Regions from separate parts of the Homo sapiens genome. Here region 2 is linked to region 1. The links come from fine-mapping of genetic effects on gene expression. A gene starts in region 1. The other region holds a variant in brackets. All regions are shown on one strand. Distances are from middle to middle.

The links. PIP is the estimated chance that this variant, and not a neighbour inherited with it, causes the effect.
Region 2: its variant is the best candidate, but not a certain one, in a credible set for the expression of EMG1 in lymphoblastoid cells (GEUVADIS, PIP 0.77).

The regions. Positions count from the first base shown.
Region 1 is chr12:6,969,538-6,972,445 of GRCh38, forward strand. It overlaps EMG1 (EMG1 N1-specific pseudouridine methyltransferase), which reads left to right and starts at 1,376. Exons shown (of 6, transcript NM_006331.8): 1 at 1,376-1,554. The coding sequence starts at 1,387. PHB2 (prohibitin 2) reads right to left here and starts at 1,127. Exons shown (of 10, transcript NM_001144831.2): 1 at 880-1,127; 2 at 659-743; 3 at 1-40. The coding sequence starts at 1,006. RefSeq lists enhancers at 1,051-1,653, 1,174-1,243, 1,334-1,513, 1,564-1,683.
Region 2 is chr12:7,022,271-7,025,178 of GRCh38, forward strand. No RefSeq gene overlaps it. Among named protein-coding and RNA genes, the nearest start is that of LPCAT3, 5.2 kb to the left of the region's middle. The variant C/T (reference allele first, on the strand shown) is at 1,440.

The DNA.
Region 1 (2,908 bases):
CCGAATGTCATAGATAATGGGGTACTGGAACCAAGGGATCCTGGAGAGGACAGGGATAGGTATTAAGAGGCCACAGTTTCGGCCGGGCGCGGTGGCTCACGCCTGTAATCCCAGCACTTTGGGAGGCCGAGGCGGGCGGATCATTTGAGGTCAGGAGTTCGAGACCAGCTTGATCTACATAGTGAAACCCCGTCTCTACTAAAATACAAAAATTAGCCGGGCGTGGTGGCGGGCGCCTGTAATCCCAGCTACTCGTGAGGCTGAGGCAGGAGAATCGCTTGAAATCAGGAGGCGGAGGTTGCAGTGAGCCGAGATCGCGCCACTGCACTCCAGCCTGGGCGACAGAGCAAGACTCCCTCTCCAAAAAAAAAAAAAGAAAAGGCCGCAGTTTCACTAGCCTTGCCCGGTTTCCCCTCACCACGCGTTTTTTGGCCTGCTCCTCTCCACGACCACAGACAAGGAGAGATTCTCTTGTCCCTCTGGAAAACAACAGTTTGTATGCTGCTGGAGGTTCTCGCAGCACCCACTATCCTAGGGGCAGGGATGAGGAGGGTGGGAAAAGAGCAGCGTTGAATCCTGTTGCACGTCCGACTATAGCCACTGCTGGGTCGGCGTCAAGGGTGAAAGGTCAGGGTCAGCAGGCTCTGCCCGCCATTACCTGAAGTGAAGGCCCTCGGCCAGGATAGTGTCCTGCTGCACTCCACCGATCCGATTGAAGAAGATGGCTCTGTGCCCGCCTTCCACTGTGGGGAGATGGGTGGTGATCAGGCCAGGCCGCTGCTCAGAGGAAATGCTAGGCCCGTGGAGGGGCGCGGGGACAGGGCAAGGGGTTTGGGGGAGGGACTGGAAGCGTCCGGCGAGCAGGCGGAGGTTGCTCACCGGTGAACACAGATTCGCGCACACCGTAGGCCACGGCGCCGGCCCCCAGCAACAGCTTCAGGGCCGTGCCCATGCCCCGGGGCCCGGCGGGCAGCCGTCCCGCCAAGTCCTTCAAGTTCTGGGCCATGTCTGATCTTGAGGCCGGCGGCACTGGAGGTCAGAAGGGGGTGCCGGCCCGCCTCTACCCCGCTCCGGCTTAGGTACTGCACCCTTCACACGAGGGTTCGGGCCCGTAAGGCTGGCGAAAGAAAGGGCAGCGGAAGTGCGCTCCCTTTGAAACCCTCCCCCTTAGCCCACTACGGACCCGAACTTCGCGCACAGGAATCGCGCATACGGAAGTCCCGCCCCTTTCTGGAAGGCTGCCCTCCCAGGGAGGGCAGCGCAAGACAGCAAGTCATCTCCATTTCCTGGCCCACTTTCAAAATGGCAGCCGGAAGGAAATTTGTGATTAGAAGCCGCGCTGTTCTTATTTAAGAGCGTTAGCGCAACTTCCGGTATTGTTGCAAGATGGCCGCGCCCAGTGATGGATTCAAGCCTCGTGAACGAAGCGGTGGGGAGCAGGCACAGGACTGGGATGCTCTGCCACCCAAGCGGCCCCGACTAGGGGCAGGAAACAAGATCGGAGGCCGTAGGCTTATTGTGGTGCTGGAAGGGGCCAGTCTGGAGACAGTCAAGGTAGTTTGGGACAGGAAGTGGAGAAGTAGTAAATCGATAGGTTGGGACTCCGTGGAATGAGGGTAAGGGGCCCAGAGTGGATGTAGAAAGCAGAGAGGGGTGAAAGATGCTTTTGAAGGAAGGTGGCTTGGTTGGCTTTGCGTTGATTTGACATCCTGGGATGGTAGTACTCATTTTTCTTTCTTTTTTTTTTTTTTTTTGAGACGGAGTCTCGCTCTGTCGCCCAGGCTGGAGTGCAGTTGCGCGACCTCGGCTCACTGCAACTTCTGCCTCCCGCCTTCAAACAGTTCTCCTGACTCAGCCTCTGGAGTAGCTGGGACTACAGGCAGGTGCCACCACGCCCGGCTAATTTTTTTGTATTTTTAGTTCAGATGGGGTTTCACCATGTTGGCCACGCTGGTCTCGAACTCCTGACCTCAAGTGATCCGCCCGCCTCGGCCTCCCAAAGTGTTGGGATTAGAGGCGTGAGCCACTGTGCCCGGCCGGTAGTACTCATTTTCTTTTGCTCTTTTTGAATGATATTCTAGCCCTCACCTCCTTGCTTCCAATTGGTTTACCAGGATTCTGTGGTATAGTAGTCTAAGCAGAGGAAAGTTTCGTTCCTTGCGTCATTCCACATCCCAAGACAAGTTACTGGGCAGATGAGAAACGTAGTTATGTAGCCTAGTCTGCCCACACTTTTTGTAAGGGCTTCGTGTTTCAATTCATTAGTATCCATAGTCACCTCTCTCTAATATCCACCTATGATACACTGTCCAGACCTGGTTATTATTTAAAACTTTTACATCTGCATTTTTATCTATCATTCATCTCTTTCCCCACATGTAATAGAACCAGCAGTTCTCTATCTTAAAGCCTTGGGCAGTGTTCTTCCTCCTCCTTTCTCTTACCCGTTAGAACTAATTGAATAGGCCCAGAAGAAATCGCATTGGTTTAGAAGTCAGGCCAGGATTTTAATCTTCGTTCTAAATACACTTTTTTTTTTTTTTTTTTTTGAGATGGAGTCTCAGTCTCTACCAGGCTGGAGTGCAGTGGCACGATCTTGGCTCACTGCAGCCTCCGCCTCCCGGGTTCAATCGATTCTCCTGCCTCAGCCTCCAGAGTAGCTGGGATTACAGGCCTGCGCCTGTAATCTATTAAAAGAATAGAAAACATGATTATATCCTACTAATGGGTTGAAACTGTATTATTCATTCAAGAAGGTTTTTTTCTTCTATAACTAAGGGTGTCTCATGGACTTAGTTCTTGGTCATTTGTTCTTTGTGCTCTCTGTGACATTACTTCAACTATTCAATTTCAAAATCTACATCCCTTTTTTCGCAGACTTTTTGGAGCCATATATCTCAAGAATGTT
Region 2 (2,908 bases), 53 kb after region 1:
TCTATGATTGCATCCCCAACAAAGCAGCAGCACTTATACCGTAGGCCCCTGCCCACCAAACTGTCTTTGAAAAATCCTAGCCTCCAAATTTTCAGGGAGATTGATTTGAGTAATAGCTTCATGTACCATGTGGCATGGTCAGCCTTGCATCAATTAAGATCTTTCTCTAATGCAATGCCATGGTCTCAGTGAATTGATTTTGTCTGTGCAGCGGGCAGGAAGAAGCCCACAGGGCAATTACATATGGTAGTGTATGGCAGTGTCCTAGGCCTTCACATTCACTCTCACACTCTTCACACTCACTGACTAACCCAGAACAACTGCGAGTCCTGCAAGCTCCATTCAGGTAAATGGCCTATACGGCTGTACCATTTTTAAATTTTTAAATTTTTTTAAATTTTTATTGAGATGGAGTTTTGCTCTTGTTGCCCAGGCTGGAGTGCAATGGCACGATCTCAGCTCACTGCAACCTCCACCTCCCGGGTTCAAGTGATTCTCCTGCCTCAGCCTCCCAAGTAGCTGGGATTACAGGCCTGTGCCACCACGCCTGGCTAATTTTGTATTTTTAGTAGAGACGGTTTCTCCATGTTGTTCAGGCTTGTCTTGAACTCCCGACCTCAGGTGATCCACCTGCCTTGGTCTCCCAAAGTGCTGGGATTATAGGCATGAGCCACCGTGCCCAGCCTTTTTAATCTTTTATACCATATTTGTACTGTACCTTTTCTATGTTTAGATGTGTTTAGATACACACAAATAGTTATTACAATTGTATTATTATTGCTCACAATATTCATTATAATAACATGCTGTGCAAGTTTTTAGCCAAGGAGTACTAGGCTATACCCTTGTAAACTAAAAGTAAAATTCGAAGCCCCCACTAACTGACCTAATGGACCCTCTCCTGGCAAAGCAGACCCCAGAGTAACCTTGAAAACTGAGTTCTTGGTCATGATGGGATGAGGTCAGGCACGCCTCCTTATGCTCACCCCTCCCTCCCTAACCGGTTTAGGCTTTCTAACCTAAGGGCTAAACAGAAACTAGCCCTTTCAAAAGACTCTACCAGTGATATCAACCAACTGTCTGATATTGCTCCTCCTTTTATGCCTGATAAGAGACTCTTGAATATGAAGTGGTTCTGACCAGTCTACAGAGAATGCAGTGAGGGTTTTCATGTTCTCTGCTTCACCTTTTGATGCCAGAGGGCCAAAAACTCTACCTTAGATCATCTTAATGCCACCATTTTTTGAACATGGGGCCCGTGGAGAAGCATGAAGCTCAATTGCACATGAGTATGTTTCTCCTTTCATAAAACTCATCACTCCTATAATGTACTAAATACGTACATTTGGCCACCCCACTCAGCATAAATTTCTCTTCCCTTTGGCCCTCCCTTGAAGTATCTGTTTCTGGTTTGTGGCTGGAGGCTGTGCTTCCCCTCC[C/T]GTCAGAATGGCCACCCTGCAGGCTGCAACCCTTTATGAGAAATAAAGCTCTCTTTTTTAGATTTATGAACCTCATCACCTGATGAAGCTGGGGACATTGAGCCCCTAAATTCTGATTGATCTTCTTTGCTAGTGAAAGAGGCCTCCCCATCCCCAGTGGAGGCATCCCACCTGAGAGGACTAACCCTGCATTGCCTACGAAACTGTAATGGCCTCCCTGAGGAAGTTGCCATGCAGGACAAAGCAGATGCTCCTCAGGACCCTTCCCCACCTGCCCTCTTTGCTTCTAGACCTGTAACTAGACTGAAATCCCAGCAGGCCCCTAAGGTGAGGGACAAAGTGTGACCCATGAGGAAGTGTGCAACACTCCAAAAGAACGGCTTAAGATGTCTAATTTATACAGACAGAAATTTTGGGAACACGTATGGGAATGGATATTGAAGGCATGGGATAATGGTGGAAGGAACATAAAACTAGATCTGGCCAAATTTATATGGGCTTACTAAATAGAGGTTCTACATTTAATGTTGCAGCTCAGAGAGTTAGGAAGAGCTCTAACAATTTGTCTAGCTATTTGGCTGAGACATGGACCAAAGGTGGGTCATAATGAGTAAATCAGAAATTCCAAACCTGCCTTGGTTTAATGTAGAGGAAGATACTCAAAGGCTTAGGAAGATTGAAAATTTAGAGGAATTGTCATTTAAGAACTATTCACCCACACTGGAAGGATCCGGAAGACATATCTTTCACCATTATTGTAAGAGATAAATTTGTAGCTGGGCATGGAGGGTGATGCTTGTTATCCCAGCACTTTGTGAAGTCCAGTTGGAGAATAGCTTGAGGCCATGAGTTCAAGAGTAGCCTGGGGAGCATAGTGAGACCCTCTCTCTACAAAAATTAAAAGAACAAAACAGGGCTGGGTGTAGTGGCTCATGCCTGTAATTGGCACTTTGGGGGGCCGAGTTGGGTGGATCACCTGAGGTCAGGAGTTCAAGACCAGCCTGGCCAACATGGTGAAACCCCTTCTCTACAAAAATACAAAAAAACAAAAACAAAAACAAAACTAGCCGGGCATGATGGCAGTCACCTGTAGTCCCAGCTACTTGGGAGGCTGAGGCAGGAGAATTGTTTGAATCCGGGAGGCGGTGGTTGCAGTGAGCCGAGATCGCACCATTGCACTCCAGCCTGGGCGACAGAGTGAGACTCCGTCTCAAAAAACAAAAAAACAAAACAGCTGGGCATGGCTGTGTGAACCCCACATATCTGAGATGGTCTCAGTTAATTTAGAAAATTTATTTTGCTAAGGTTGAGGATGCGCACCCGTGACACAGCCTCAGGAAGTCCTGACGACATGTGCCCAACGTGGTCAGGGCACAGCTTGGTTTTATACATCTTAGGGAGACATGAGAACCAATATATATAAGAAGTACATTGGTTCTGTCCAGAAACGTGGGGATAGCTCAAAGCAG